6 separate regions of the Homo sapiens genome follow, and all the other regions are reported to be linked to region 1. Evidence: microRNA targets listed by miRTarBase, many of them from high-throughput screens and not tested one by one. Region 1 holds a microRNA gene; each other region holds the end of a gene's coding sequence.

What was found. The annotated mature microRNA hsa-miR-500a-3p reads AUGCACCUGGGCAAGGAUUCUG and lies in region 1 at 2,904-2,925, shown strand. An mRNA with a match to its seed (bases 2 to 7 or 8) in the 3' UTR can be bound and repressed. Matches are read on the target gene's strand: a 7mer-m8 pairs with bases 2 to 8, a 7mer-A1 pairs with bases 2 to 7 and ends in A, and an 8mer does both.
Region 2: the mRNA of RAB3D is a reported target of hsa-miR-500a-3p. Seed matches in the 3' UTR shown: 7mer-A1 at 2,067-2,073.
Region 3: miRTarBase lists ANKRD27 as a target of hsa-miR-500a-3p. Seed matches in the 3' UTR shown: 7mer-m8 at 3,306-3,312.
Region 4: miRTarBase lists CFAP263 as a target of hsa-miR-500a-3p. Seed matches in the 3' UTR shown: 7mer-A1 at 2,001-2,007.
Region 5: the mRNA of CTDSPL is a reported target of hsa-miR-500a-3p. Seed matches in the 3' UTR shown: 7mer-A1 at 4,087-4,093.
Region 6: miRTarBase lists DERL2 as a target of hsa-miR-500a-3p. Seed matches in the 3' UTR shown: 7mer-A1 at 1,371-1,377.

Annotation. Positions count from the first base shown.
Region 1 is chrX:50,005,579-50,010,997 of GRCh38, forward strand. It overlaps MIR500A (microRNA 500a), which reads left to right and starts at 2,853; the gene lies at 2,853-2,936. All of the region lies in intron 3 of CLCN5 (chloride voltage-gated channel 5), which reads left to right. MIR362 (microRNA 362) reads left to right here and starts at 3,386; the gene lies at 3,386-3,450. It overlaps MIR501 (microRNA 501), which reads left to right and starts at 4,144; the gene lies at 4,144-4,227. It also overlaps MIR500B.
Region 2 is chr19:11,322,143-11,327,174 of GRCh38, forward strand. It overlaps RAB3D (RAB3D, member RAS oncogene family), which reads right to left. Exons shown (of 5, transcript NM_004283.4): 5 at 1-3,443. The coding sequence ends at 3,256. It also overlaps a transcript of TSPAN16 not described here. Among named protein-coding and RNA genes, the nearest start is that of TSPAN16-AS1, 3.3 kb to the left of the region's middle. RefSeq lists an enhancer at 2,106-2,315.
Region 3 is chr19:32,594,573-32,599,991 of GRCh38, forward strand. It overlaps ANKRD27 (ankyrin repeat domain 27), which reads right to left. Exons shown (of 29, transcript NM_032139.3): 27 at 5,400-5,419; 28 at 5,132-5,204; 29 at 2,434-3,806. The coding sequence ends at 3,573. Among named protein-coding and RNA genes, the nearest start is that of SNORA68B, 11 kb to the right of the region's middle.
Region 4 is chr16:58,278,489-58,283,907 of GRCh38, reverse strand. CFAP263 (cilia and flagella associated protein 263) reads right to left here. Exons shown (of 9, transcript NM_014157.4): 8 at 5,271-5,419; 9 at 72-4,217. The coding sequence ends at 4,131. It overlaps PRSS54 (serine protease 54), which reads left to right. Exons shown (of 7, transcript NM_001305173.2): 7 at 3,151-3,911. The coding sequence ends at 3,684. Among named protein-coding and RNA genes, the nearest start is that of PRSS54, 14 kb to the left of the region's middle. RefSeq lists a silencer at 2,609-2,903.
Region 5 is chr3:37,979,787-37,985,205 of GRCh38, forward strand. CTDSPL (CTD small phosphatase like) reads left to right here. Exons shown (of 8, transcript NM_001008392.2): 8 at 956-4,683. The coding sequence ends at 1,081. Among named protein-coding and RNA genes, the nearest start is that of VILL, 8.3 kb to the right of the region's middle.
Region 6 is chr17:5,471,161-5,476,579 of GRCh38, forward strand. DERL2 (derlin 2) reads right to left here. Exons shown (of 7, transcript NM_016041.5): 7 at 94-3,629. The coding sequence ends at 3,524. Among named protein-coding and RNA genes, the nearest start is that of DHX33-DT, 4.8 kb to the left of the region's middle.

The DNA.
Region 1 (5,419 bases):
GAGGATTTTTTAAAAAAACTATTATAATAAACTCATAGATTTAAATATATTTGGACTTTTAATCCATTGCAGTTCTTGCCTTCAGTGAAGCTCCAGTGCCCCATCTTTAGCCAGTAGGAGCTTCTTCAAATTGGTTCCTCAGTCCTTTTGACATGCCTCCGTAGTTATCTGATAGCTTCTCCGCTTTCAGAGATGAAAAAAATGTACAAAGCTCATCGCAGATACCTTCCCCAGGCCTGGAATCTGCCATGTCTTCAAGAAGCCCTGGTTTCTTTTAATCAGACATGATATTTAAAGACCATATTTGCCTCTGGATTGGTCATTGTATTTAGGCTTCTACAATGATCAGAACAGAAAAATGTTTTGTTTTTGTGTTTTCTTGTTTCTAGATAAATACATCATGATTCCATTATACTTCTGATTCAAAATCAGGATTACAGTTTTCTGTGTCTTTGCTTCACAAGTATGGTTCTGACTGTTGTATGGCAAATAGGAGGAGAAAGTGCAGAAACTGGGAGACCAGTTAGGAGGCCATTGAAATAATTCAGTTGAGAGATGGATGGAGGCCTACATCAGGGTGATCGTGGTGAAGGTAGTAAAAAGTGGTTATATTTTAAAGTTACAGCCAGTTGAGTTTACTGATACATTGCATGTGAAGTGTGAGAGAAAGAGGAGTAGGAGACTGAGCCCTCTCTTCCCTCTTTGTCACATATGAGTTGGGTACATATGCTGACACTGCCTCTTTAATCTGTAGCATCCGCATGCAAGTGCTGTCCCAGTGCAGTACACCTGGGCTAGGACTCACAGATGGTATGTTATGCACAGAGCAGAGAGTGCCTGTCACCTCTCCTAGTTCCTTTCAGAGAGCTTTTTGAATGCCTGTTGGATTTGGGGATCCAATAGTGGCAAGAGCATCAGGGACCCTGGTTTTACTGTGGGGTGAGCTTGTGCCAGAGAACACAGTTCATCATTCCCATTCAGCCTGCCTTCATGTGTTCAAGGGGCTGGAAAAGGGGAGCTTTTTCTTTCCTAACTCCCATGCTATCCTTGGGGTACAGGTGCCTGAGCCTTCTCATTTGCTCCTTCTCTTTAATCCTTGATACTGGTACTAGTGCTCTCCACATGCAATGCACCTTGGCAGGGATTCAGATGGGGTGAGCCTTAGCTGCAGATGGAAGGACAGAGCCCTTGTACATCGCCTACCTCTCCTGCTGCCTGCCAGTATTATTTACTCCTGTAGGGAGCCAGAAGAGAACAGTACAGCCACAGTCCCCTGAGTGTACTGCCTAGCTAGCACATATAGGAGGATAAAGCTCATTTGTACTCACTGTGCAGGTGTGCACACATGCTGGGGATACTGGAGAATGAATTTACTTTAGTTCCCACCCCCCAAGCACCCCACCTTGTCCCCCAGGATGGTCAGGCATCTAGGGATGTAGACCTGTATACACGGAGTCCCACTGATCAGGTAAGCAGTGGGTGGTTCCTTCCTGCCCTAACTCTACTCTCTTTGCCCTCCCAGAAAGGGCAGTGAGCTGTCTCGGCATTCTTCCCTTAGGTAGCTGTTGAATGAAGATGCACTTCCTTGTTAATGTTCTCTCTCACAATCACAGATACACAAATACTCGTATATGCACATGTGCACAAGCAAGGCATACAGGAGAATGAGCATGCAAGGGAGGCCCACATGTGGCTGGGTGCCCAGCATATGCAGACATGTGAGCATACAGGGACAGGAGAGACAGGAGCCTTTTTGATTATACTCACAGGGCCAGATGCCCCCATCTTTACTCATTTTCTGTCTCTCTCTCTCTCTCTTTCTCTCTCTCTCTCTCTCTCTCTCTCTCTCTCTCTCTCTCTGTCACACACACACACACACACACACACACACACACAGAGAGAGTGGAACTTCTGATGTTTTCCTTCATATCCCTTATGTGAAGGGGCGTGAACTTTGTTGACCTAGGGAGATTGAAGGAGAACCTCATCAACTCACACGTGAGGAATTTAAGAGGATGAATCTGTGTATCCCCTTGTGCAGGCACTCACACTCACAGATACTCGGACCTCTTCTCTCTCACCTGTCCCTTGCATGCAGGAGTTTCACCATCCCCCTTAAAAATGCACATTCATTCAAACACATATATACATAAAAATAGAGAGTAAGAGGTAAAAATATTGACGGCTGTGTGCCAGGTACTATACTTTATTTCATTTTCTTGACACCATTTAAGAGGTAGGCTTTAAATTGTCCTCATTCTTCAAAAGTGTTTAACTTGACCTTGGGAAAATCAGGTCGATTCTCTAGGCTAATATGTGGTAGAGCGTGCATTTGAACCAAGGTTCGTAGATACCAAAGTGCCTGGTTTTTCCACTACATTAGTGATTCTCCCAGTGTAGTCCCTGGACCAGTAGCATCAGTATCACCTGAGAACTTGTTAGAAATGCAAATTCTTGGGTCTCACCCCAGACTCACCAAGTCAGAAACCTCTGTAACCTGTATATTACCCAGGTCTTCAGATGATTCTGGTGCATGTTAGAGAACAACTGTGCTAAACTGTACTGCCTTCTTGTTGCATAGTCACACAAAGCATTTGCGGGATCATGAGCTTTGGCGTTATATTCATTCTCTCTTTCCTCCCTTTCACACTCCTCTCTCCTCCCAGTCTCTTTATAGGTTTATACTTTTTTGTTGTTACTATCTGAGAGAACAGACAAAATGTGTGTTTAACTAGACATCTTTAATGCAAAGCTCAAGAACTGTTCTCTTTACTTCTATATCATGACAAGTAAGTACCTTGTGTGAAGAAGAATGAGCCCTCTCACTGAACATTCACAGGGCTTTGTGTTCTGCTCCCCCTCTCTAATCCTTGCTACCTGGGTGAGAGTGCTGTCTGAATGCAATGCACCTGGGCAAGGATTCTGAGAGCGAGAGCTTCATCTTCGTGTAGGACAGAGCGTCTTTCTGTCCTCCTATCATCCATTCCACAAGTATTTATTGACCACCTTTTCTGTATATGATACTAAGTTGAGTAATGAGCATACAGTTGCTAACAAGACATGCTTGGTCCCTACCCTCATGGAGCTACAGTTGAGGAAGAAGAATGGAATTCCTCATCATCCATTACACCTACATGCCCTGAGAGTGGGTGGGCCACAGAGTGGACTTCTCATTACCACTGTCACCCACAAACATACACAAAAGCATGAATCTTCTCTGATCTCACATGGAACTCTGCAGGAGAAAAGATTCTCTGCCTTTCTGTAAAGTCCCTAGTAAATGACACTGTATATACATGAGAGTGAGACTTGGTTATAGCTACACATGCACACATACAAACACACAAAAAGGGCAGGTGTCAGAGCCTTCTTGTCTGCTCCCCCTCTTGAATCCTTGGAACCTAGGTGTGAGTGCTATTTCAGTGCAACACACCTATTCAAGGATTCAAAGAGGCTGAGCCTTGTCTACATGTAGAAGGACCAACAACCTGTCCCCTTCTTTCACATGTTTGTGTTTGCTATGCGGTGCCAGATCCTGCACTGGGTGGTGGAGATACAACGGTAAATAAGACAGCTAAGGTCCCTGGGCTCTGTAGAGGGCACCTGTGGGAGAATGAACTTCATCATTGCCCTGGACAAGCTTACACCTCTTTGAGAGCATGAGCTTTCTGTTTACTCCCAGCTTACTATGTGTCAGATACTGTAATGGGGAAACACACATTGGGTGATGAGACTTGCACAGCCAGTCTTTGCTCTCAGTGAGCTTATAGTTTACCAGAGAAACAGAAGAGAATGAAGTATCCCAATTTTCTGTACCATCTTCCAACATGTGCATGTACATGTGTGCCCACATACAGTTTGTCCCAACCTCCTTGCTAGGCCCCAAATACATCCAGCACCTGCAGACCCTCAAGTGTGATCTGAAAAAGATGCCACTCATATCTTTCATTCTAGTCTGAGGTTTTGTCTGAGAGGGCATGTCCATGTGGCCTTGTGCAGGGGGATGAATACATATGCTATCCCTGAGGAGAGGCATCTGTCTTAGCAAATGCACACAGAGATACTTTGCAGGAATGGGACCATGAAAGTCAAATATATATGGAGATATACATGCAGGGTGCAGGTGCCTGAGTCTTCTGCTCTGCTCTTCCTCTCTAATCCTTTGTCCCTGGGTGAGAGTGCTTTCTGAATGCAATGCACCCGGGCAAGGATTCTGAGAGGGTGAGCCCCCTCTGCGTGGAGAACAGAAGATCTGTATGTCACCTCTCAGCTGCTTGCTGCTTGCCTGCCTGCTCTCTGACCCTCATTCATTCTTTCCTTCCACAAATAATATGTATTGGGCACCATGATGGGCATTGGACACAGAGAAATGAACAAGGCAGACTTCGCCCCTGCCTTCCTGGATATTATAGCCTGAGAGGAGAATGGACTTTGTCACCACTCATTGCCCCTGCATATACTGAGGGTGAGTGGGCCACATAGGAACTTCTTATCTACCCTCTTCCCACCTTAACCCACCCATAAGTGTGAGTCTTCTCATTCCTGCTGTCACATTGATACTTGTTTCTTGTTTTTTCCTTCTTTCCTTCCTTCCTTCTTTTCTTTTTCTTTCTCTTTCTTTTCTTTCTTTCCTTCCTTTCCTTTCCTTTCTTTTCTTCTCTCTTTTCTTTTCTTTCTTTTTTGATGGAGTATTGCTCTGTTGCTCAGGCTGGAGTGCACTGGCACCATCACAGTTCACTGCAGCCTCAACCACCTGGGCTCAAGCGATCCTCCCACCTCAGCCTCTCAAATAGCTGGGACCACAGGCTTGTGCCACCATGCCTGGCTAATTTGTGTTTATTTTTTGTAGAGATGGGGTCTCACTATGTTGCCCAAGCTGGTCTCAAACTCCTAGGCTCAAGCAGTCCACCAGCCTTAGCCTCCCAAAGTGTTGGGATTATAGGTGTGAGCCACTGCACCCAGCCTGATACTTGTCGAAGCAACTTCTCTCTACTTTAGTTCAATGCAAGGTTAATGCACTAGGCAAGAACAGCAAGCCTTCTTGTTAGATGCACATGTGAGGTGTACAGGTACTGGAATCTCCTGTCCTGGTTCCCCCTCTCTAATCCTTGCTACCTGGGTGAGAGTGCTTTCTGAATGCAGTGCACCCAGGCAAGGATTCTGCAAGGGGGAGTGACATCTTCGCATAGGACAGAGCACTTCTACCTCCTCCTTCCATCCTTTCTATGACTATTTGTTGAGTACCTACCTACTCTATTGCAGGTGCTGTCCTGGGCAGTTGGCCCACAAGAGAATGAGCCATATCTGGTTCCCTACCTTCATGGAGTGTACAGTTCAGGGAGGAGAATGGACTCCTTCTCATTCATTATATCTGCATGTCCTGAGGGTGGGTGGGGTACAGGGTGGGTGGGGTACAGAT
Region 2 (5,032 bases), not on the chromosome of region 1:
CACAGAAGAACCACATCCAGGATAGAAAGGACCAGCCAGAGCTCGTTCAGTAGTGTATTTCAGAATCATCAGGGAGGAGCCGGTAGCAGAATTATCCCGTTAACACTGAGACCACATTTCACCTGTTACTTATTTTTCTAAATGGAGTAGGAGAGAAAGATGCTAAAATGTGATCTTGGGAGGAGTCCCCCAGTCCCCCGAAAAAGAAGAAGAAAAAAAAAAAGCAGAACTCCAAACCCCTGTGGTCATGGCAATTTCCCATCAAAACTGCCCATGTAAAATAAACACAAGCTGCTAAAAGTGAATGTTAAGAAGGAAGGCACTGGTTAGTGGGTGGTCCTGACCAATCCCCTGGAGCTGGAGAGGGGTTTTCCCACGGCCTTTGGTTTAATGTGTCTGTAAACTCAACAAACCTCCGTTTCCCTGAGGTAATCTGCAAAAACATCAGTTTTCAGTCCCCAGAGACCATTTCCAATTAAACCTCACCCCCCAAATCATTCAATGTAACATTTGCCTTATTTTTAGAAGAAACAAATGTTCCCATATTATTCCCAGTTTTTGAGAGAATCCTGAGGCAGCTCTCTCGGCTGCTACTTGAAGTTGAATTCTTGAAAAATCTTATGTAAACAGAAAGCTTAGGCCAGGTCAGGAGTAAAATGCAGTCAAAGCTGTTTCTCATCACACAGGTGATTACAGGTTAGCTCTGCCCTATTCAAGACAATCTGATCCATTCCTTTTTTTGACAGCAGTTTAGAGACAATTGGCCAACAAAACCAGCCTGGCCAACAAGGTGAAACCGTCGCTACTAAAAATGCAAAACTTAGATGGGCGTGGTGGCAGGTGCCTGTAGTCCCAGCTACTTAGGAGGCTGAGACAGGAGAATCGCTTGAACCCGGGAGGTGGAGGTTGCAGTGAGCTGAGATCATGCTACTGCACTGCGGCCTGGGCGACGAGCGACTCTCTGTCTTAAAAAAAAAAAAAACAAAAAAACCTCAGCAGGCCATACTGCATCTTGAGAAGTCTTTTTGAAGCTACTTTAGTTTGACTTTAGTGTTAAAGTAGCTAAAAATTTTTGACTCCCGCCCACATATTCAGATACCCTCACTTTGTGCATAGGATTTGTCCATTACACCTCAGTCATCTAATTTGTTGGTATAAAAGATACCCTCGGCTGGGCGTGATGGCTCACGCCTGTAATCCCAGCACTTTGGGAGGCCGAAGCAAGTGGATCACTTGAAGTCAGTTTGAGACAAGCCTCACCAACATGGTGAAACCCCTTCTCTACTAAAAATACAAAATTTAGCCGGGTGTGGTGGCAGGTGCCTGTAATGCCAGCTACTCGGGAGGCTGAGGCAGGAGAATCGCTTGAACCCTGGAGGTGGAGGTTGCAGTAAGCTGAGATTGTGCCACCGCACTCCAGCCTGGGCAATAGAGCGAGACTCTGTATCAAAAAAACAAATGAAAAAAAGATACCCCACTCCAAAGTTCTAAGGGTAGCCTCTGGTATGAAGAAACCAGGGCTCCCTAGAAATAAATCTAAACTTGAACCAGGCTTTCCCCCTCACACATACCCCAGGGAAGAGGCTGAGCTCATGAAAGCTGCAGGAAGTCATTTTGGCTTCAGGGGCTGGGAGAGCAGACACAACCTCTGAAACAGAGTCAGGGACGTGGGAACATAAAACATCCACTTAGCCATCCTAACAGTGCTGGTCCTGTGAAGGGGTGTTGGTTGGTGTTTGGGAGCAAAGAAAAGGTGCTGCGCCCCTAGAGTTTGGAATCTGATGGGCAGAAAGTGCCTCTAAACCGGAGGTCAAGATGTACATCTTCAAACTGCACACGTAACCTCTGAGCAGAAGCCCCTGGAGGTGGGGACCCCAGCTTCAGAGACTCCCCGGCACTGATCACAGTCCATCCCCCCCATTCACATAAGGTCCTGCCACTCTCAGGCTGTCTACAAAGTACAAGCAGTGACAGCAAGTTACTCAATCCTACCTCCTCACCCCTTCCGCCCAACCCCCAGCATCCCTTAGAAGTGACCCCTAGTTTGAGGCTGTGGTGAGCTATGATTGCACCACTGCACTCCAGCCTGGGTGACAGAGCCAGACCATCTCAAAAAGAAAAAAAAAAAAAAAGAAGTGACTCCTCCATTAGCAAAAATTGTCACATCCCTGGGCCCTGCCGATGACAAGGATTGGGAAATGGACATTGGGTCTTGAAGGGCCCCCCTCAAGTCGGAGCCCAGGTGCTTACATCAGAAAGTCGCCGACAACTGCCTGCGGTGGCTGGGAACGTTGCTTCATTTCCTTTTCTAGCAGGATGCATGATTGGGCAAGAACTTGCTTAAAACACAACCAGCTAAACAGCTAAACAGGGCCTGGGAGGGAGGCCCCAGCCCCAGGCTCCTGGCTCTGAGGTTAATTAACTTCTGGCCGAAAGCCCAGAGCCGGAGTGCTAGGGGTTGGGCGAATCTCTGCCCAGTCTAATGTGGTCCATAGTTCCAGAATTCACTTCAGGATCAGAGATGTGGTGAACACAGCAAAAACAGTGGCAGGGTCGTGGGTGATGTGGATCTTGGGGGAAGCTTGGAAGGCACTTCTGGGGTCCCTGAAGCCGGGGGGTTGAGGGGATCTGACTCCCTGTCCCTTCTACAATGGGAAAAGGCTGCTTCAATGCTGCTTTTCGCAAGTAGAGGGTCTGCAGGGGTCAAAGGGATCACCATCCCACCTTGGAATCCAGAAAGTTCGTGGGGGCAGGCTCAGAGACCAGCCTGCAGGACCTGAGAAAGAGGCGCCGCCTTCCCTGGATGAACTCCAAGAACCCACACTGTGCGAGGAAGATGAACCATCTTCCACCAGCTTGGGAATATCAGTCCTGCCCAACCCAGAAGAGACCTGGAAAATGGTTCTAAGCTAGAAGGCACCACGGATGCCCCTCCATCAGAAAGAGTGGGACGTGTCACCCATGGCCACCCTCAACACACCCTGGAAAGCAGCAAGCTCATGCACGTCAGTGTCCCTGGGCCTCTGCCTGCCATGCAGAGCTGAGTCCCCATGGTCCGCAGCCTCCCACCGGGGCTGCCTGAGGAACCTGGCAGCCACGGCGACATTGTGAAGGAATGAGCCATGCAGGAGTCGGGGAGCAGTTGACAGGAGGGAAGGGATTGCCCTGAGCTTGGAGATAACCACTGTGGCTCACGCCTCGATCACAGTCCCTGCCGAGGCAGGAGAGGGGTGGGTGGGGGGTTGGGGGCCATCTCTAGCAGCTGCAGCTGCTGGGCTGGGGGGCTGGAGCATCCCCCACGGCCGGGCCTTTCCCGTTGCTGCCTGAGCTGGAGCTGGGTTCCAGGGACTCGTTCATCTTCTCGCAGATGACATCCACCAGGCGCTCGAAGACCTGCTTCACATTGATGTTCTCCTTGGCACTGGCTTCAAAGAACTCGAAACCTGGATGAATGTTAAGGTGGGGACACTCGTAAGACCCCTGAGGGCAGAGTCTCAGCTGTGGCATCACAGAAACCTGGCTTCTAAGCCTAGTTCTGCTCTTTATCCTGCTGTGGGACCTTGGTTGTGTGCCTTTGCCACTCCAAGCCTCAGTTTGCTCACCTGTAAAATGGGAATGATGATCCTACCAATGATAAAAATCTGTGGCAGGCCAGGCGCAGGGGCTTATGCCTGTAATCCTGGCACTAAAGGAAGCTACGGCGGGAGGATCGCTTGAGGCCAGGAGTTCAAGACCAGCCTGGGCAACATAGCAAGGCCCTATCTCTACAATAAATTTTTTTAAAAAGTAGATGGGCGGCCAGGTGAGGAGGCTCATGCCTATAATCCCAGCACTTTGGGAGGCCGAGGCGGGAGGATCATTTGAGGTCAGGAGTTCAAGACCCGCCTGACCAACATGGTGAAACCCCATCTCTACTAAAAAGACAAAAAATTAGCTGGGCATGGTGGCACGCGTCTGTAATCCCAGCTACTCGGGAGGCTGAGGCAGGAGAATTGCTTGAATCTGGGAGGCGGAGGTTATAGTGAGCTGAGATCACACCACTGTACTCCAGCCTGGGCAACAGAGCGAGATTCTATTAAAAAAAAAAAAATAGAGGGGCATGGTGGCGTTCACCTGCAGTCTCAGCTACTCGGAAGGTTAAGGCAGGAGAATGGTTTGAGCCCAGGAGGTCAAGGCAGCAGTGAGCCATGATCACACCACTGCACACCAGCCTGGGTGATGGAGCAAGACCCTGTCTCAAAAACAAAACAAAACGAAACCCTGCGGCTGCAGCCATGGTCTGGACAATCCTAAGATCTCTTTGTCACAAGGCAGTGGCTGCAAGAGTATAGGTGGGAGGGTACATGAAGAGTTCTGCTGCCCTGCGGCCATGGCAGTGCCCACAGGTGGCTATAGCTCAGCTTCCACCCAATTTCTGCTGCACAGAAAGGCATGGTCAGGAGACCCATCAAGTCACATTTTCCATTGCTTTTTTTAAAAGAGAAACGGTCTCTCTCTATTGCCCAGGCCGGGGTGTAGTGGTATGAACATGGCTCATTGCAGCCTCAACCTCCTGGGCTCAAGCGATCCTCCCGCCTTGGCCCCCTGAGTAGCTGGGGCTACAGGTGTGCCCCACCATGCCCGGCTAATTTTTCAATTTTTTCTTTTGTAGAGGTGGGGGTCTCGCTATGTTGCGCAGGCTGGTCTTGAACTGCTGGCCTAAAGCGATCCCCCCGCCTAGGCCTCCCAAAGTGCTGGGTTTACCAGCGTGAGCCACCACGCTGGGCTTCCTGCATCCTTTTAAGGTTCCTGAGGGTCTGCCTGAGAGGAGCTGTCCCTGAATCTCCATGCAGCCCCACCTGCCACATCACCAAGGTAAGCCAGGAATTCAGACAAACGCCTGCCACGTTACACGTGGCCAAGGGTAAGTGGACCTGTCTTCTCTGTGCGTCATGCTGAACTATGAAAATGGAATCATAATGAGTTAGCTGTGTAATTACCCATTTATTATCTGTCTCCGCTACTAGAAAGCCAGCTCCAGGCAGGCAGGATT
Region 3 (5,419 bases), not on the chromosome of region 1:
GCTGAGACTGTAGGTGCAAGCCACTGCTCATATATTTAAATCATAAACTTAACCATCAACCAGCTGTTTGGTGTAACCTTTTAAATGTCGTAGTCCTGTGAGACCTAGCACAGGATTAAATTCATAAATTTAACAAGGTGAATAGGATTAGTAAAAAAATGAAGGGAAATGTGGTTTGCAAACCCCAGTCTCTGCGTTAGCCAGCATACTACTGATACATGTTTAAACTGGAGATTCTACTATATTTGAAATTTGCAACTATTGTCAGTGAAGAAATAGAACAATATCTAACATTATAAATAAGTAGAACCGTTGAGAACATCAACATATTTTTAAAAGAATGATCATAAGATGAAATCTGGCTGGGGATTTTCTGTCAGGGTAAACTGGTAATTTAAAAAAAATTTGGTCGGGGATTTTGAAAAAAATCCCATTTACAGGTAAATTTTGCTTTAGGCCTCATTTACATACAAATGCTAGGAGGACATGAGGCAGTTCACAAGTTCTGTGCTTTCTCACAGGATAACCACTGTCCTAATGGCAACTGCTGTGAGTGTGTTTAAAGATGGTCAGACTCTTTCAGACACCTACCTGAGAGTGAAAAGTGGTTCCATGTACAAGGAGAGAGGTTCCTGATGGCAATAAGAGGCTGGAGTACATTTTAGGGAGTGGAGAGTGGTTATTCTAAACTTTCTAATTTAAATCAGTGAACTTGCGTTACTTTGAATTCAAAACTTTTTTCCACAAAAATGGAAATTAGGGGCATTAATTTCTCAACTGTCACATCAAGTTTTGGGTAGGGAAAGCAATTGGAAAAAACAACTGGTTGTTTGCTTTTTTTTGAGATGGAGTATTGCTCTGTTGCCAGGCTGGAGTGCAGTGGCATGATCTTGGCTCACTGCAACCTCTCTCCCAGGTTCAAGCAATTCTCCTGCCTCAGCATCCCAAGTAGCTGGGATTACAAGCGCACGCCACCACACCCAGCTAATTTTTGTACTTTTAGTATAGACAGGGTTTCACCATGTTGGCCAGGATGACAACTGTTTTTTAAAAATAATCGAGGGAGTCACTTAAGATGGAAAACATTACTGATGACCAGAATAGCTCAAAAAGAAACAGCATTTACCTCTCCAGAGGAAGGGTACACCAAGCTTGCAGCTGCCACTGCCAACCAGGCCTTGATCCTGGCTGTGAGATCCCTCGCAGTCCCCTTATTTTTCTGAACCTGTTTCCTCATTTGACAATTCTACCATTCACAGTGATTGTTGAAATTAAATGGGTATATGTGAAAATGTTTTCAGCTGGGCGCAGTCGCTCATGCCTGCAATCCCAGCACTTCGGGAGGCCAATGTGGGCAGATCACTTGAGGTCAGGAGTTCAAGACCAGCCTGGCCAACATGGTGAAACCCCATCTCTACCAAAGATATAAAAATTAGCCAGGCATGGATGGTGGCAGGTACCTGTAATCCCAGCTATGCGGGAGGCTGAGGCAGGAGAATTGCTTGAATCTGGGAGGCAGAGGCTGCAGTGAGCCGAGATGGTGCCACTGCACTCCAGCCTGGGTGACAGAGCGAGACTCCATCATCTCAAGAAAATGTTTTCAAAATTATATTGCACTACCCCAACATATTAGGTGGTGTCAAATGTGTGTATTTGTATCTTGAGAATACCTGTGCTGATAAACTGTATAGGATGTATTAATTAGGATGGTATAGAACCACAGCAGCTTCAGTCTATAAGGTGGTTTTGTTTAAAAGTAGGGAAGGCTGGGCATGGTGGCTCACACCTGTAATCCCAGCACTTTGGGAGGCCGAGGCGGGCGGATCACGAGGTCAGGAGATTGAGACCATCCTGGCTAACACGGTGAAAAACCCTGTCTCTACTAAAAATACAAAAACAAAAAAACAAAAACAAAAAAAACACTAGCCGGGCATGGTGGTGGGTTCCTATAGTCCCAGCTACTCAGGAGGCTGAGGCAGAAGAATTGCTTGAACCTGGGAGGCGGAGGCTGCAGTGAGCCGAGATGGTGCCACTGCACTCCAGCCTGGGTGACAGAGCGAGACTCCATCTCAAAAAAAAAAAAAAAAGGGAAAAGGAAAAATCAGAACAAAGAAATTAGCAAAGCAACAGGGCTCATTTCCTGTTTGTTTGGGGTAGGAAGCTGTATTCATTTTATTCTTCTGATTTCCAAAGAAAAACATTTTTGTGGGCCCGGGACACTGTGCCTACTGGGTTAAGTAGGCCTTGGTCAGTAGATGAATAATGAGCTAAGTGATCAAGTTCCCATGTTTCAATCTCACATCTATAACTGAAAAATGTATATCCATTCAATGGGGACCCTTTTTCTCACACACAAAGCACATGTTTACAGCAGACAGGCTGAGAAACATATCATCTGCAGCCAAACAACTAAAAAAAAATACCATGACACAGTCAAGAATCATAAAGTTTACTGTTTCTTTTCCATCATTTGGCACATATCCAAGGCACATTAGAAAATTAGAAATCATAAATTACTTTGTAGAAAAATAATCCCTCCCTTCCTTCTGTACATACACAAGTATTTCCAAGAACATGGACAAAACCATTTCCCTATCACAAGGTCATTTGAAAACGGACTCAGGACAAACCCATATACGTGTAGCTCTAGGCCAATAACATAAAAATAACAGTATAATCTATAGAAATTTATAAAAAGGAATAAATGGCAATAAATTCTAACCGAAAGTAACTCTGACCTGGTTTGTGCTGTTAAGTTTTGAATTTGAATCAAAAGACTAAGAAAAGATGTGCCAAATCTACTCTCTAATCCAGTAACCATCCCGTCAGGTGTGAGTGTGACAGACATTCAAGGGAGGTTCTCAACAAAAAGGGATGTTTCTAGAAATACTGCTACAGGTGCACGTGTAGTAACCGAATATCTGTACCTACTTGTTAGAAGGAAAATGATAACCACCCTTTCCCATGTGCATGATGTGGAACAGGTCTGATGCATCCTTTCACTAAAATGAATATCAAAATGGGATTGAGGCATCTTTTGGTTCGAGTGTTGCTTTGCAAAGAAACATTGTCCAGCTGCTGCTTTCTTCCTTCAGATATGACATTTCAGCCTGGCCTCTACAGTACCATGAAACCTAAATTACTTACTTCTCTCCAGCTTAATCCTAGGTGGAGGAATTCTAGCTGTGGTTTGTGAATGTACACAGGTCAGAGAGGTTTAGCACCTTTTGGGAGGAGGAGGTCAGAATGCGGTGGTGAAACCTCTCCCACTGTGACCAACAAACCCTCATACTTAAAAAGAAGCATGCACCTCTGGCTTAAGGATCTGGATGCTACTGGAATTTTTGTCTGTTTCAATTGTATTCATTAGCTTTGAAGAGGAGAGAGATGGTGGTGGTTAACTTTTTTGTTGCATTCTTTCCTGCCACAGAAAAGCTTTCAGGAACTTGGTGCTGAAGACTTCTCAAGCCAGTCTCATGGAAGCACATTTAGTTCTCAGATGTGTTCACGCTCAGCATCATCTTGTTGCATCCTTGCTTCCTAGCAGTGGGTTCAACAACTCCTCATTCCTGTTAGGACCGGGAAGCACTAACCTCTTGGGGAGTGGAGAGGGGGCCAGCAGCCTCCGGGCCCTGGGACACGACCGCATCCTCTACCGTGTGTCTCCGCAGCATCCGTCTGTGTCCAGGGCCAGTCTGTGTCAGTCCAGGCCTCTCTGGCCAGTCGCTGTTGCCTTTCTCAGCAGCATGAGATCCACTCTGAGCTGGCAGGTTATTCTGTCTCAGTGTGACACTTTGCCTCCCTGGCTAAAGAAAAAGTACATTTTTAACCGTTGACGTCCTCACTGTACTGGAAGCCACAACCATGACAGTGACAGCTGCCCCTTAGTGCCTAGTGTCACATAATGTGCTCAGTGCTTGACAGGCATAATTTCAATTCTCACATCCCTGTCGTGGTAACATGGCATGTGCATACTACATGTGTCAGAGTAAATGTTTCACTTGTTTTCACAATCTTTATGACTCTAGGAGGCATGTACTACTATTGTTATCCCCGTTTTACACCTGAGGAAACAGGATCAGCAAAGTTAAGCCACCTGCCTAAAGTCCTACAGCTAGCAAGGGAAAAGCTAGCACTTGATGGAACTCAGGCAGATTTCAACGATTCTGGCTTTCCCACAAAGCAGCAGGTCTCCTAGCAACACCACATAAGACTAAATATGGTATCAAAATTAGTCATGTTAATTAAAATCATTTTAATTATCTAAAACAATTTAGAACTTTTGTGTATTTGTTCCAACAAGCCTATGCTACATATGCTATAAATTCTCATCAGCAACAAGGAAAGCTGTGGTTCTGAGAAGAATCACTGTCTCCGATCACAGGTTTTCAATCAAGCTTCTGAGTGATTTAAAAATGCAGTAGGGTCCGGGCACGGTGGCTCACACTTGTAATCCCAGCACACTGGGAGGCCAAAGCGGGCAGATCACTTGAGGTCAGGAGTTCAAGACCAGCCTGGCCAACGTGGTGAAACTGCGTCTCTACTAAAAATACAAAAAAATTAGCCAGGAATAGTGGCACATGCCTGTAATCCCAGCTACTCAGGAGGCTGAGGCGGGAGAATGCTTGAACCCGGGAGGTGGAGACTGCAGTGAGCCGAGATCGTGCCACTGCACTCCAGCCTGGGCCACAGAGCAAGACTCTGTCTCAAATAAATAAATAAAAAAATGTAGTGGGAAGATGGCCACATAAAGAATTGTCTGAGCAACTGTACACCATACTTGGAGACATCATTTACCCATCTATATACAAACTGTCGTTTTCTTTCTTTGGTGATTAAAACCATAGTGAAATGTGGGATGTTTCATCTCCTATAAGCACCAAGACCTGTGGTTTCCCACACATGTAACACTTTCCACTCCTCTGCTCAGAAATGTACTTTTAGTTATAACAATCAGTGAAGTCTGTACTCTACACTGTCCCATGAAATAATTCCAGTTTTAACTGCTGCTAACTCATACGGCGCACGGAATAATGAAGATGACGATCAAGGAGACGTGTTTACCATGGATTACTTTTGACAAAGCCGGGCTTTAGAAAATATGATTAAAAGCCAGTGTTTAATAACTTACCTCATGCAAAGAACCTTCGGTTAAATTAGGGACACTTCTATCTCTTGCCATAATCTCCCTTGAAGTCTTTCCCCTAAAACCCAAAATAAACGAAAATAAATATTTGGGACAGTGGCATGAAACACTCTGGTTGGCCACAAGGTGGCAGCATTTTTGACATTAGTAGGTGCAGATTTGTCCATAACCAATTACAATTGAAGCAGCTTACGTGCAGCTTGGAGTAAACTAGGGGCAAAAGCACAGAAATCAACTTGAGTTTCATACTCACTTAAACTGACCAGCTGAGTG
Region 4 (5,419 bases), not on the chromosome of region 1:
TTTTTTTCCCCATAGGATCCAGAAAGGCAGGATTTTTAGAGCAAGGGGAAAAAATACATATATACAGACAATTTTTTTTAAAAGTCATTTTATTGCAAAACATGAAGGACTGCCTCTCATTAAGAAATATGTTTGCCCTTCCAAAGTTGGTGTAACATCTATTGAGTGCCTATTTTGTACTGGGTCCTCTGCCAGGTGGGGGATCTTAACAATTTCTTAAATTAGATAATGTGTTAAAATACAGTGAAGATATAGCTTTTTAACAAAATTCTGCCGTCAACCATTCCGTCAAACAAGTATCATACTTCCTCAGATCTAAGATGCTGCCAATTATAGAATGCACCATCATTTTTTGTAATCCCAAGAAAGAAAAAAATGCTGCCCGTTAAACTCTGACATCAACTGATTAAAAGACACACCCTAATTTCAAAGATGTTGATTTCTAACTGTATCTTAGACTCAATGGAATATTCTAAGCTATTTCTACTCTAACTGACCATCTTTTAAAATCTAACTGCAAAGTTCAGGTTGGTTTTTAACTGTGACACACCTCTAAACATGCCTTCATTTTTGAACAGAATTATGCTTGCACACCATTTAATGGTGACCCGTCCCCATAGAATCCTCTGTCTTGGAAATATGTTCTCATGTCCAGAGGTCTTCAAAGCCACAATTCCCACATGTAGAATCAACCACCAGGTTCAGAATCTGCCTATGGGTTTCCCTGAAACCCAACAAAAGCAGAATCACTCTGCACTCACCCATCCTGCCTTTATTCTACCACTGTCAGGGCTTTTGCTGAATGTCAAGGGAAAAGATCACAAAATGAAAGACCCCACTCTGGGCTGTGGCCGCTCCCTTGGGAGATGAGGTAGGGTAGCTCCAGAGGGGCACCTGGAGCTGTTCGCCTCTGCCTCTTGTGCTTCAGAAGTCGCAGCCCCTACAGGATTATGGGGAAGAGAAAAAGCGTATATGCTGTGCCCAGGTGGGTGGAACAGTGACCTGCAAAACCACGCCATAGCTGAGGACATCTACCAATCACTCATCCAATCATTTGTCCTAAATCACATTCTTTTTCTTGCTCTGGCTATACCACTACAGTTAAGACAAACTGCGAATCGGACTGATGAAAGGGGGAACCACGTCATTCTTGGCCAGGGAGCCCCCATGACCTAGGCAGACATAGTGAGGTGCACACAAGGGCCTCTTCACCAGTCAATTGAAAAGTCAGGAGTGCCACACTAAAGCACCCCCTTCCATCCAAGGAGAGGCACAGAATGAAGTCCTCAAGGCCTTCCTCACATGTCTGGCCTTGGCCTGCTGAGAGATCACCAGGGAATCACGGCAGCTTTGCAGCATGGCCTCCCCGCTGGCCTGCCCACGGAGTTGCTCCCATGTTTTCCCACTGGTCTTCATCTCTGTTCTGGTGTGGCTTCCTTGGAAAAGAGGAGCTTTATTGAAAGAGAATACCCCACTGGGCATGGTAGTTCATGCCTAATCCCAGCACTTTGAGAGGGCGAGGCGGGCAGATCACTTGAAGTTAGATTAAGACCAGCCTGGCCAACATCGTGAAACCCCATCTCTACTAAAAATACAGAAATTAGGCCGGGTGCAGTGGCTCACGCCTGTAATCCCAACACTTGGGGAGGCCGAGGCGGGTGGATCATGAGGTCAGGAGTTCGAGACCAGCCTGGCCAACATGGTGAAACCCCATCTCTACTAAAAATAAAAATTAGCCAGGTGTGGTGGTGGGCGCCTGTAATCCCAGCTACTGGGGAGGCTGAGGTAGGAGAATCGCTTGAACCCAGGAGGAGGAGGTTGCAGCGAGCCGAGATCATGCCACTGCACTCCAGCATGGGGGACAGAGCAAGACTCCATCTCAAAAAAAAAAAAAAAAATTAGCTGGGCATGGTGGCGCATAGCTGTAGCCCCAGCTACTCGAGAGGCTGAGGTGGGAGAATTGCTTGAATCCCAGAGGTGGAGGTTGCAGTGAGCCAAGATTGCACCACTGCACTCCAGCCTTGGGGACAGAGAAAGAAAGAGAGAAAGAGAGACAGAGAGAGTGACCAAGACAGACCACACACCCAGGTCTCGGATGGTAAGGGGCTGAAGCGGCTGCTCTTCTGCCTTTCTGCTGCTCGTGGTTCAGTCTGTTCAGATTGTTTCCTGTTGTTAATTGCGGCCCCATTCCATGTCTCAGTCCAAACTGCGAGAGCAACATGTCATTGCCTGGGCCTTCCAGCCAGGCAGGCCACACAGGTCAGAAGTGGCTGGCTAGCCTGGGGATGACCACCCCCTTCTCGGACCAAGATGGGCCATGGGAGGGGCAGGAATTCCTTTGAGAGGAGACCTAGGGGTGTGGGGTCTGGGCAGGTAAGGTAAGTGATACCTACTAGTTGCCTTGTTGCTTTTCCCATTTTCCCCAACTTTTCAGAAAAATGCTGGCCTTTATAGCGACATCAGGATGATGGTAGCTAATATTCTATTGAGTGTTTGCTGTGTGCCAGGCACTGTGCTGTGCTCAGCACGTGTTACAGGCATTAACTGTGTTCCCACCTTGGCTCAGAGAGGATTTGGTCACTTGCCAGGGTCCCATATCTAGCTAATGATGCCAAGCTTCTACTCCGTCACTTTAAGTTAGATAAAGTGTATGTGGCAGAATTCCCAAGTCCCAGAGGACTGCTCCATTGGGAGTAGGGAAGACCCAGAGCACGGCCAGCCAGGCTGGTAAGCAGTTGCCAGGTGGCAGGAAGTGGCTTACACTAAGGGTTGAAGCAAGGCAGAGAAGGGAAAATGTGAGCATTTCAGGACAAAACAGAAACAAACACCAACATTTCAGGAATGAGAAGCCAGAAGAGAGGGAAGGTTTGGCCAAAGGACTGGAAAGGGGCAAGAAAATGAAATATGAACCAGGAAGCTATAGGCAATCAGCAGAAGTCCACAGCTAATTTGCATAATAAAAGGAAAAGTCATCTTGTTGGAATTTGTGGTGGTGGCTGCCTAGATTTGAAATTGTATCCTATAATTTGCCCCATTTCCAGTGAGAACCAGCGTAAAACATTTCTAGAACAAACAGTATATTGCACAAGGATAGATTTACAACAAAAACTAGTTTTTCTAAGACTTGAAGCCTTCTGTCTTTTATCACAGGGGGACCCAGGAAGCCCAATGATGTGCCAGCTACAGCAGTTCGATCTGTGGGTTCTGAGAGGAGTCCTGAACTTCGGTGGTGAGACGTGCCCTGGCCTGTTTCTGTACACCAAGGTGGAAGACTACAGCAAATGGATCACATCCAAGGCTGAGAGGGCCGGCCCTCCCCTGTCCTCACTCCACCACTGGGAAAAGTTGATTTCTTTCTCCCACCATGGACCAAATGCCACCATGACACAGAAGACATATTCTGATTCTGAACTGGGCCATGTTGGATCATACTTGCAGGGACAAAGAAGGACCATCACGCATTCACGACTAGGAAACAGCTCTAGAGATAGTCTAGATGTTAGGGAGAAGGATGTAAAGGAATCAGGCAGGTCTCCTGAGGCGTCTGTACAACCCTTATACTATGACTATTACGGTGGGGAGGTGGGGGAAGGTAGGATTTTTGCAGGTCAGAACAGGTTGTATCAGCCCGAAGAAATCATCTTGGTTTCCTTCGTGCTTGTTTTCTTTTGCAGCAGTATCTAGTCCAGGAGCTACCCCACCAAACTGAAGAGTAAACTGAGAATGCTGAGTGCCAGGCATTCACCATGCTGTTTTGATGTCTGTTTTTGATAGTTGCACACTGGGGCTGCCACGGATAAGCCCATGGCATACACTGGGCTGGCTCTCCCTCCTCTATCCCTCTCCCAGGTGTGGGAAGGTCACTTTCACTATGCTTGTGAACTAAATGCTGGCTAACAAGTGTCAAACCATTAGAGTGCCCTGTGGTTCTTTCAGTGGTAACAGTTCCAGGGGCCAGGCTGTGAAAACACTCCCCATGGGCAGATGTGGCCCAGGAGATGATACGCAGCCTGGGTGGGGGGTTGGGAACACCAGGCAGACAGGGAACAGTGAGAGGAGCCCGTGACTAGAAAGGAGCTGATTACTTTTATAGGTCATGTAGTGGTCTGTAAGCCGTGGCCTGCCTCTGGCTACTTCCCAGCAAGGTAATCTGCCTGCAACTGCTCATTGGTTATTTTCATTCGATTCCAAGCCTTACGATGGCCTTTTAAGGACATCTGCAAAAAAAAAAAAGAAAAAAAGAAAAAAAATGATAAAGGAGATGGGGGAGAAAGTCACTTGGGGAAAACTGATTGTGGCTACTGAGAATGCAGCCCTCATCCAGCCCCGTGATGGTGCAGGCAACCCTGTGTGGGGCAGCGTGTCCTCCATGCATGCTGCTGTGTAGGGGCCACAAAGGGGCAGCACCCACCGGAAGATTTTTCTATAGAGCATGTTTCTTCTGTTCAGTAAAGTGAGAAGTTGCATGTTCCTGCCACGATTCTGCTACTTCTCAGCTTCGGATCTGAGGGGCCCAAATTTGGATCCTAATTTACTCTCTGCTGCAAAATGGCCGCAGGAGAGGCAGGACAAAGTAACACAGGAAATGGGAGCCAGGGTCTAGATGTGAAAACGCCAAGGTACCAGTTTTCCAAGTGACCTGACTGGCTTTCTAAGCTACTCTGATGATGTCCTGCATGACCTCAGTTTGCAACCTGGCCACGGCAGCCTAGGTGCTTGTCTTTCTTCTGACACCAGCATATGGTTTCCCATTGCCCATTTATCTCCCGCAGCTCACAGGAGCAAGGGTGCTTCCTGTCACATGGTACCATATTCAAAGTCTGCGGGATTCGTTCAAAAGCAGAAAGACCCATGGCGACTGTGTACATGCATGGAATGAGGTCCTGAGTGATATTAAAAAATCCATCACTATCTCATTTAAAAAAAAAATGGACTTCTCCATGTATAAAGTAGCAATCACTAAATTACCAGTGCAGAGGGATTCAGAAACTTCTAGAATTCATTAAGATAACAAGCAACTAAAAACACACTATTACTACAGAGTTTCTCCCTGAAAATGGAAAAGACTCTGCCCCTAACAATGCAAAAGGGGGAACTTTCAAAAAAAACAAATCATCCTTCGTCTTGGTTTAATAGTTAAAGCAACTGCTGAGGTTTCTCCCAGAAATTACATATCCAAACATCTGTATTCTTACCCCAAAGAACAAAATCCTAAGTGAAAACGTTGAAGACATAAAAGACTGCCCATCTTGGGGCTCCCCGTGGCTCACCTCTGCTATCTCCACTTTCCTTTCCCACATCCTGATGCTCTTCTCCAGGTCCGCATTTAAGATCTTCTCCCGGACGTAAGTCATCACCTGTGGTGCCCGGAACTCGGCCAGCTGCTTCCGGAGCCTCTTATTCACTGCCTCGGCTTTGG
Region 5 (5,419 bases), not on the chromosome of region 1:
TAATTGTGTGGTTGTGTCACCAATTTTATATACACTTAGATTCACTTTTATTGCTTTTTTTCTTAATGGTTTAATTGTATTTTAATTATATAACACATTTACATGGTTCCGACATCAAAACTATAAATAAAGACAGAGAAGTGTGTCCATTTCTGCCCTCTCCTCCACTCTCTCCCCATCCCCTAGGCGTAGTCATTTCTTTATTAGTCCTTACTTTATTTTTCAAAGTTACGTAATAAATGTCTATGTTTCTAAGCTATCTTTAGATTTGTAAAAGGGCTAAAATGTTACTTTTAAACATGTTTGGTTTATTCAAATTTGTTTATAAATCTCTCCTTTGTACCCCTGGCTACCACCCCTCCCCACTCCTCTGCCTAAAACTAAGGGAAAATCCTGTCTTTGCCCATAGCTTCAGAATGTTCTGCAATTTTAGACTTTTACTTTTAACTGATCACTGTTAAGCAAGGGAGGAAATTTACCACTTCTCTTTGTGATGTAATATTGCACAGTGACCCTAAGTGGAAGCCTTCCTGTGTCCTGGATGTGAGCTCCGCGCTGTCAGTGGTTGGCTTGTAAGCTCTGGCTCCAAGTGTTCTGAGGTGCAAGGAACCGATCTTGTGCAGTAGAAAGAGCTTTTGGAAGTTGGCAAGTAGCAAGGCTAGTTCTCATACATTCTATGCTCTGGCCACCTTTTTCTGTGGCAGGAAAACAAAACAGGCAAATGCACACAAACTGGGTACATTTAACTTTGCCTCCCTGAGCCATCTCCCAAGCCATTTAGCTTTGGATTGGCCTCAATTTGAACAAGGGAACAAACAAAATCATGATGATAACGATGATGACACCAGTCGTCCTTACTAAAGAAAGTGCTCAAAGTCCGGGTACCCGGTTAGGTTAGGAGCAGCCCCCAGCGCTAGATGCAGTCCTGCTGCCTCCTCCATGCACTGTCTTCCAGGTGCCTGTGCAGTCCTGGTTCGATGACATGACGGACACGGAGCTGCTGGACCTCATCCCCTTCTTTGAGGGCCTGAGCCGGGAGGACGACGTGTACAGCATGCTGCACAGACTCTGCAATAGGTAGCCCTGGCCTCTGCCTGCCTCCCGCCTGTGCACTCTGGAACCTCTGGCCTCAGGGGACCTGCCTGTCCTCAGCTCCCTGGGAGCTGAAAGTGAGGATACTCCGTGCTCCAGGCCACAGGGTGAATGTGGCCATGCCTACCTGTTTTGTTTTTTTAAGAACAGAAACAACTATTTTAAAAGAACTCTTTTAAGAAATTTCATAAAGGGACATGCATTTTACTGGGTTTGCTTTTCTTAAAACATACCAAAAAAGAAAAAAATAGAAAAAAAAAAAAAAAAAGCTTGATCTCTATCAGACTTCCTTTCAACTGTCCTCCCCTCCAAGCAGACCACCTGTCCCCTTCTATCCCAGCTCAGAGCAGCTGACCCAACTCAGAATCTCTTTCCTACAGGATGAAGTGCCTTTTGAATGTTATTTTAAGCCGAGAGTTAATTTTTCTACACAACATATTTCCAGACATCTTTTAGTCTTTTATTGTCTTAGATACTATAAGAAGATGAACATGACAATTTTCTAGAACCTGGTAGCGTGTGTGTGTGTGGCGGGGGGTGCTGAGGGAGGGGAGTGAGTCACAGGAGCCTGTCCCCCAACAGGTGTGACTGCTCTGACAACCTGTGGCATGCTGCAGGGTCAGGCTCCTGATAGGAGGATTTCATGACTATGTCATTGTCTCCACTCATTTTTGACCCAGTTTGGAATGTATCTGCAATTGTGTGGCTCAACACTTTAGGAAACAATAGATTATTTTATATTATTATTTCTGATGGTGACAAGTTTGTCTTGAGGTCACATTTTCTCCTTGAAAAGTGACATCCTGTCACTTCTGCTCTCACACTACTGCCATACATTTGTGTTTTTTGTTGTTATTGTTTGGGTAGAGCAGTTACAAGAAACCCTAAAACCCTTGGATATAAAAGAAATCTGTTTATTGATTTTTAAATCTTTCCTTTCCAAAAGCTGGATACACATGGAGCTGTTTGGGAATTTTCCTTGCTGCTACCGCGCTGCCACCAAATGGAATTGACCAGCGGCTGTTACACTGTTCTTTGCCACTGTGCCTATGCTCAGAATATGCTCACTGCTAAGCTACAAACTCGGACAGGGTCAGAAACAGAGGTGTCCCATCCCATTGCAGCCTCCACCACCTGTAACCCCTTCCTGGCATTGGCCACTGAAGGGTACAAAGGCAAAAGGACCACAGCACCACTTAGGTGTAGCATGGATTTTAAACTGCAGTCAGTATCAGATCCTGTTTGATAAATAAGCTGACTGTTCTCTCTTGAGAACCTGTGGCCTCAACCAGCCACCAAGCTGATGTGGCCCAAGTCCATCTCTTGGTCTTCTCCTTTGAAGCACAGCCTATTTCTGAGCCAAGGGTTGGGGAAGCCTGTCTAGATGTGGGACTCATTGCCCCAAACCAGGGAGAGGAAGAGCTCCCACAGGGAGAGCCCAGGCTCTCTTTGCAGCCTTTCCCAGTTTGGTGTTTAAGCAGTGCCATGTTCCTTGTTTGACAACAAGACAGTCTGTAAAGTATTGCTCTTAAAAACAATTAAAAAGAACCCTTTCATATTGGCACCATTGCCTTAGTCCTCTGTGGGTTGGTCTTCAGCCAGCATTCTGGTGGGAGTGACTGGCATTAACAAGACTGGAAATCGGGGGTCAAAGTAAAATATCTTTGTTTTGCTTTCATTCACAAAGTAATGAAGCCAGCTGCCAATTACATCCTCCCAACAGCACTTTGGTCTGTGGACTGCTGTGTGAATATTCAGAAGGGAAGTAAGTATTCAGGGGGTAAACAGGTCTCCCAGCATTCTGAGTGTTCCAAACCAGTAATCCACATGCCAATTCAAATAGAACAGCCCCTTGCTAGATATTACCACAGATAATGACAGTTACATGGTAGAACTGCCCATGCCACAAATATTTATTTGGAAAAGTAGTCATTAAATGAACCCACTGCCTTAAATGTCTTGAATGTTGCAGTCAAGTGTCTGTCATGTGTTGATATCCACACAGAATTAGGCCCTAATGAGAGCCTTAGACCCTCAACCATGCCCCCTTCGTTGGCATCACAGGGCCTTATTTGGAAGAGCGGGCAAAGAGGATGGAAATCATAAAATATTTCATGGGAATCGAACCTAGGGATAGTGCTCCACTTCTGACGATGGAGTGAAGACACTTGGCAGACTTGAGCCAGACACTTCACCTAGTAGTTCCTGAAACTGTGAGCACCACTGCACTAAGCCAGTGCGGAGCTGTTAGGGACGGGCCCAGCTCCTGCACCACGGACACAGAATGTCTGGAGAGGGCCAGCAGGCCCTCTGAGGGTTCTGGAATCTGTGCACCTTATTTGACCACACTCCAAAATTCTGTTTTTATTTTAACCCTTGAATCTGCTTTATGTACATAATCAAAATATCTATATCTATATCTATATCTATATCTATATATTTTTAATCATCTACATGTAAATGAAGCAATAGAATTCTAACATAAGGCCAAGAAATGAGACGAATGTTTGGGGTTTATGTTTTTTAAGGTAAATACGGGTATTGTTTTTAATTATTACCATGTATTAAATTGTGGGCTTTGAAACCTAATGAAACCTGTTAGCCACTTCTCTGTGCCATATACTTCCCATGTTACCAAAATACCCCCAACTCTTTAGCCAAAAGAGAACCCTGACCTCCTGAGTTTCCATGCTCCTTTCTGTACCAGGTTTAAATGTAGTCTTCTGGAGAAGTATTTTTGACATTGAGCTCTGGGACAGGACACCTTGGGTTTGTGGACTGCAGCCCACTATGATGTTATTACTTCTCTGGCCAGGCCTCCAGTGGAAGTGCACAGGCACTCCCAATGTTGTTAATGCTCTGTCTTCCATTTGTTCTGGAATCCTACGTGTTGGTCTGTGGTTCCATGCATTAGCTGTTTGTAAATAATGCATTTGCATACTGAAAAAGGAATGCCACCTGCCACAGTTGATGGTGAGGAAGCTCCTTTGACGTGGTGCAATTTTGATGAGATGTCTCTGGGGACACGAGGATGCCCTAATGATGCTGACTTGTCATGGTTGCAGCATTTGAACTTTTGGTGTTAAAAAAAAAAACCTGTAAGTCTGTAACCTGGCAACATTTTACAACCCTGTATTTTTAAAGATGGCTTTCTAATAAAAAATCCAGAACCACACAGCCCTATGGTCAAACAATCCTACGTTTGTGCCTCTGCTTTTAAAGGTGCTGTGCTGGACAGTTGGCATGCCAGGGTTCGAGAAGAGTGAATGGCTTGACGTACTTGCAGTTAACTGTGCAAAATTGGCTGGCTGCCTCTGTTCCTACTGTACTGTAACTTTGATCATGTCTGTTCCTGTTCCATTCTCCCAGGAGCTTCTCTGCAGACTGACACACCCTCCCCCACCCCGGGTAGTGGAGATGCTGGTGTCTGGGTAGTCATGGATTTCTGCTGGACATTTGAATGTGATAAACAATCCAGCATTACTTAGGAAATGCTACATGCGGAATGTGCACGTTTCCAGGGGCGAGTATTGTCAATCAAAAGGTTTGCAATGATTTCCTTCCTGCCAAAAATAAACATGTGAAACTGCACTCTTTTGTGGATTGACTACTTTTCTACCAGAAGCGCCTCTCCTCCCTCCCTTCCCCGCCTCCTGCGCAGCCTCATGCCATCACCTTGGGTCTCCTGGTATCCCCACTTCCGGGGAACAGGGGTGGATGGGAGTGGGGCTGCAGCACTCCAGGAGCCACAGACTGATTTTCTAGCTCGTCCATCCCACCCAAATTGCCTGTCACTCCAAGGGTGACTGCTGTTCAGCCCCCTGGCTTCCTCCCTCCGGAAGCAGTATGGCTCACTCTTCTCCCACAAAGATTCCAGCCCTCCCAGCAGGCTGGAAAATGCAGCCTGAGAGAACTGGGGCCTCCCATTCCATAAGAACCACAGGCATTATATGTGGTGCCTAAACCCATACCCATACCCATGGGCACAGTGGCCAAGATGATTGCCCGATGAAGCACGGCAAGGAGTCGGAAGAGGAGTCAGGATGTCCCAGGCAGTTTCTCGCAGTGAGACATTCTGTCGCCAGTGCCCTGAACCCAGTCCCTCTGTACATGCAGGTGAGAGAGGCAGCGACTCCTCTGCTAGAGACTCCTGGCAGGGACTTGGACATGGCTTCGCCACTCTCAGGACTCTTTCTCTTCATGATATCTGATTCGGATAGCACCAGTGTCAATTTCATAAGGTAAGTCTTATCCCCATTTTGTGGATGAGAAAACAGGCCAGCGAGACAAAGCTCTGCAGTCTGCTCTATCACAAGATACAGGATTC
Region 6 (5,419 bases), not on the chromosome of region 1:
CACTTTCAGAGACAACCACAAGCTTCAGCAACTAGGCTCAAGCTTGCATGCATACACTTTAATCCCTCTATAATTAAAAATACCAGATAATACTTTGCTGATCAATAAACAAAGGTATTTATTCAGCACCCATGTGCCAAGCACTGTGCTAGGCACTGTGGTGGATACAAAAATTAAGACATGGTCCCTGCCCTTAAGGAGCTTACATTCTCATGAGGGAGACAAGACTAATATACATGTACCAGCTAGGAACAGTACAAGACAATATATAATTTGGCGTTAAGAATGTCATACAGACTTGAAGCTTTATAGGGATTCAGAGACAGACAATAAAATAGGCCTTAGAGTCAAGATTTTTTGAGGAATCAGGAACAAGGCCAGGCCTTGAAGAACTGAAGAGACTTAAGTTGAGGTCCCTGTTAGGTAGAAGTGGGAGTAAAGTTAAGAAAAAAACAAGTATGCATATAATGTAGGGGCTTACTAAGAAGTCACTGTGGATTTCTGAGCAGAGGAGTGACTTGATCATACAAGATTCAACAATTTTATTGCAAACTCATAAAATATGTTTAAGTAGCCTGGAGACATCCTACAGAACACAGAAAATAATGGCAGGATCATGACTAACAACATAGCTGGAACTCACCTGTCAAAGAAAAACAGCTACAACATAAAACACTGGCAGGATAGATGACAATAGTTCTAGGAAGCCCATTACTCAACATGGCAATAGCTCCAATGCTTCCTTATTTTCAGAGGCCCCAGAGACTGAGGGTTTCATTATCCAGACCCAGGACTTAGGTGTTCTGCTTCTAGAGACTACACAAGAGGTATGAAAGATATGAGGACATACAAGAGTGACACAGAAAAAACAAGAGGAAGAGAGAAACAAATAGAAATCCATACTGGAAAAAAACGCACCGAAATGTATATAAAATGTATCTCCTAAGGAGATGCAATTTGTATGTCCATTTATTTTTAAATGAACGTATACCGTATTTCCATAACAAACAAAAAACACTATGCTTTAGTCAAGTGTGCTTTTCAGTATCACTAGAAGAATCCAGGAATCCCTCAAATTATGTGTAAGGTTAGTTGGTTGGTCTCAAAATTCCATGTATCAAATCTCACTTTCAGTTTATTTGCATTGTGAAAGGGAAGTGTGTTCTGGAAGAACTAAGATTGAGAGGTAAATTGGGGAGAAAGTAAGGACTTTTCCTTATGTCCATTCAAGCACAGGTATCCTGTCAAGCAACACAGGGCTAGGAATGGTGGTTGTAGGGCTGGCCAAACTGATGAGAGGTGATTGAAATTACCACTGCTCAGGACACAGTGTAGTCAGTCACACAGCAGGGCATCCTGCCACTGGGAACTTGCACCCTATAAAATCGGAGAAATCAAAAACCCTGTAACTGCCTGCCTTTAGGCTGTATATTCAAAATGTATTTCCTGTTTTACCTAGTCATTAATGTATACAGATATTCCCTACTTAAATGAACAGTGAGTTAACAGATTTTAGGATTAGTATTTTACCACAAAAATGCCATTCATTGCATAACTCCAACTCAGGGAGAACAAATAAAACTAGAGAAACTCATTTCTAGCCCAAAAACAATTTAAAAAAAAAAAACAAAAAACAAAATTCTAACAAACGTCACTGATAAAGCGTTCTTGAGCAAAAACAAGATAGGATAAAACTTAAGAATCCCATAAGGATTATACATGCTAAGATTGGCTTTTAAACTTTGAAAACCTTTTTTAAACTGCTTAAAAAGCAGTCCCATAGACCCAGGTTCCATAAAATTGCAACAATCATATTCAAAGTTATTAGCAACATGTAAAATACTTAAATACCATTAGTTATGCAATTCCATTTAAAGACATTAAAACACTTTTCACTTCAAAAACAATCTGAAAATTCCTATTTAGGATGTCCATTATGTTTAAGCCTATGTCTATCTTTCTGAGGACAATGTCACATTCTGGAAAGCTACCCCTTAACAAAGGTTGAATGAACTACTACTAACAATCCACTTTTGGGAAAGGGACCTGTGCCTACATGCCGTTAATGAAAGCTGTTTGGAATCATCTCTTTCCTAGGGGTGCTCTTTCGACTCTTCCAGGTTCTGGAAGTTACTTAAGCAGTGTGAATGCAAACCTGCTGAGACTCAGGGAAGACTTAATATTTAGGGGAAGTATTTATTGAACCACAGCATTAAGTGTCTACTTCTGTGGACCCTGTCTAATTTCTACCTGATTGGGAAGGTAATCCAGGTACTTGGCTCTGAAAAGGTTCTTGAATTTTCACGAAGCAAATGACTAATGTTAACTAGCCAAAGACCCTGGAAGAACATATGCCTAGCTAACTGGTATCTGTTCGTCTGGCTCCAAAGTCAACATTCTAACTTGGTTTCCAAATCTAATGAAAATCTGAGACCCTGTCTCTATTTTTTTTTTTTAATTAAAAAAACAAAAAACAAAACAAAACAAAAAAGGCAAAAAAAAAAAAAATGGCTGGGCATGGTGGCTCATGCCTGTCATCCTAGCACTTTGGGAGGCTGAGGTGGGAGGATTGCTTGAGTCCAGGAGTTCAAGACCAGCCTGGGCAACACAGTGAGACCCCATCTGTATTTAAAAAAAAATTTTTAATTAAAACTTTTTTAAAAATAAAAGAAAAAAAAAGTCTAATGAAAATCTTCCTAGTTTTACAAAAATGTGGCCCTTACCAATCTTTCCCTGGATACTTCTTAATGGAGAAATGTAAGTAAAGCAAATAAGATGCCACATTAGCTTACAGCTGACTTTCCTATAGCTGAATTCCTACTGCTACAAGAACCATCCTCCCTCCTTTTTTTTCATGTTGTCTGACAAAGTTTGGCAAAACCCAGATGCAAAACAACCTATCCAGATGACAGAAATAAATCATCTTCCTGCTGAATCTTGCATTCTGAGTTAGTAAGATGTACACAACCACAGCATGACAGCCACGTATTTCCAATCCTGAAATGAAATCCAGTTAAAAGTTGTGAAGACACAGGAAGAACAGCTGTGTAAACTGTTCTGAGCTCAGATCTACGCAGGAGGGCTACAATACATTATCAGAATTTAAAAGATCACACACAAAAGCTTTAATACAGTGAGAGAAAAATGGAATTCCGTTTTATTTTGTCCTCTCTGAAACTTCCATTTACACCATGGCCTCATCTATCAAGAAGAGGAAGAAAAGGCTCTGCCTTATACCATAAAAATCAAGTACTCATGTACTTGTTAGAGGTGGCAGGATATTTGTTTCTCCAGTTTTTTGGCTCTAAGAAATTACACTTTCAGTACCAGTGTAGTGAGGAACCACTGGCAAACTGTTGGAAATGTCTTCTGGATTAGTCAGTGTACCATTTCATAAAGTGCTTCTGGAGTTAAAATCTGCCAAGCTGTCAAAAGTGTCCACACTTTTGCAACAAAGGATAAAAGATCCCAGTGGGTATCACCGAGTCCTTCCCAGCTGGGTCTCATTATTGGCACTGCTGCTTTAACCTCCAAGCCGCTGGCCCTCACCCCAGGCGAAGCCTCCTGGCCGTTCCTCAGGTAGTGGATTGTAATTTGGATCCTCATCTGGTGTATCAAAAATAGCTTTCCTAAAAGACAAGCAACAGATATAATTTGGTCCCAGAGTCATCTCAGGTCCAAAGTACTACAAGGTCAGTTCAGGCCCCATAGGGTTTCCACCAATAGGTAAGCATTACACCTGCCTGCCAATTAAACAGTTAACATATTGTAAGAGCATCTATAATTATTAACATTTACATTAGCTTTTATCTTTTACTGATTTTTACTACAAAAGCAATCCAAATCATAATAATTACAGAGAAGGAGGAAATAGAGATGAGCAAAATATCCTCAATTTCCAGAGGTAACTATTGTCAATGTTTTAGTTATTCTTTGGGAATTTTTACATTATGTCATTTTACAAAAGTTAGATCACACTACATGTTTTGTAACCTGACTTTCACATATTTATCATTAATGTTTCCCCATAACCAAGGTATCACCCAAGTGTGCATCAACAGGTGAATAAACAAAATACGGTACACACATATAATAGAATTTTTTTTTTTTTTTTTTGAGACGGGAGTCTCACTCTGTCGCCCAGGCTGGAGTGCCATGGTGCGATCTCGGCTCACTGCAACCTCCGCCTCCCGGATTCAAGCAATTCTCCTGCCTCAGCCTCCCGAGTAGCTGGGATTACAGGCGCCCGCCACCACGCCCGGCTGATTTTTGTATTTTTAGGAGGGAAGGTTTTCATCATGTTGGCCAGACTGGTCTCGAACTCCTGAACTCAGGTGATCTGCCTGCCTCGGCTTCCCAAAATGCTGGGATTACAGGCATGAGCCACTGCACCTAGTCAACATGGTGAAACCCTGTCTCCACCAAAAATACAAAAATTAGCCTGGCGTGGTGGCGCATGCCTGTAATCCCAGCTACTACTCAGGCGGCTGAGGCAGAAGAATCACTTGAACCTGGGAGGCACAGGTTACAGTGAGCTGAGACTGCTCCATTGCACTCCAGCCTGGGCGACAGAGCAAGACTGTCTCAAAAAAAAGGAAGGAAATTCAGGCACATGGTACAACATGGATGAACCTTGAGGACTTTACGCTAAATGAAATAAGAAATAAGCCAGACAAAAAAGGACAAATATTGTATGATTCCACTTAGGTACAGAGTAGTCAAATTCAGAGAAAGAAAATAGAATGGTGATGGCTGGGGTGGGGAGTTGTTTAATGAGTACAGAGTTGTAGTTCTGTAGGATGAAGAGAGTTCTATGGATGGTGGTGATGGCAGCAAAACAGTATGAATATACTTAATGCCACTGAACATTTAAAATGAGTTAAGATGGTGAATTTTATGTTAGGTATTATTTTACCACAAAATTTTTAAAAAATTAACAAGGTATCCCAAGAAAAATTACTGCAGAACATAGGAGGGGATAGTAAATGTCCAAAAGACTCCCTAAGTACTATGATGTAGTAATTCAAAACCTCACTAAAGAAGGAACCATTAAAGCAGCATCCTCAATTTGCACTTATATTTCTACTTGTAATCCTCCACAGTTGATAAAATTAGAAATGTATCTGAAAACTTCTGATTTATACTGGAGTCAGAAAATAGTATAATTCAAAATGAGTTTTTAAAATTCTTACAAATTAACAATAAAAACAAACATACCAACAGAAAAAATGGGCAAAGGGCTGAATATGCAATTCAAAAAGGAAATCCATGTGGTCAATAAACGTGAGAATGTTTGCTCTCACAATAATCAAAGGAAAGTATATTAGAAACTGAGATCCCGGCAGGTGTGGTGGCTCATGCCTGTAATCCCAGCACTTTGGGAGGCCGAGGAGGGTGGATCACCTGAGGTCAGGAGTTC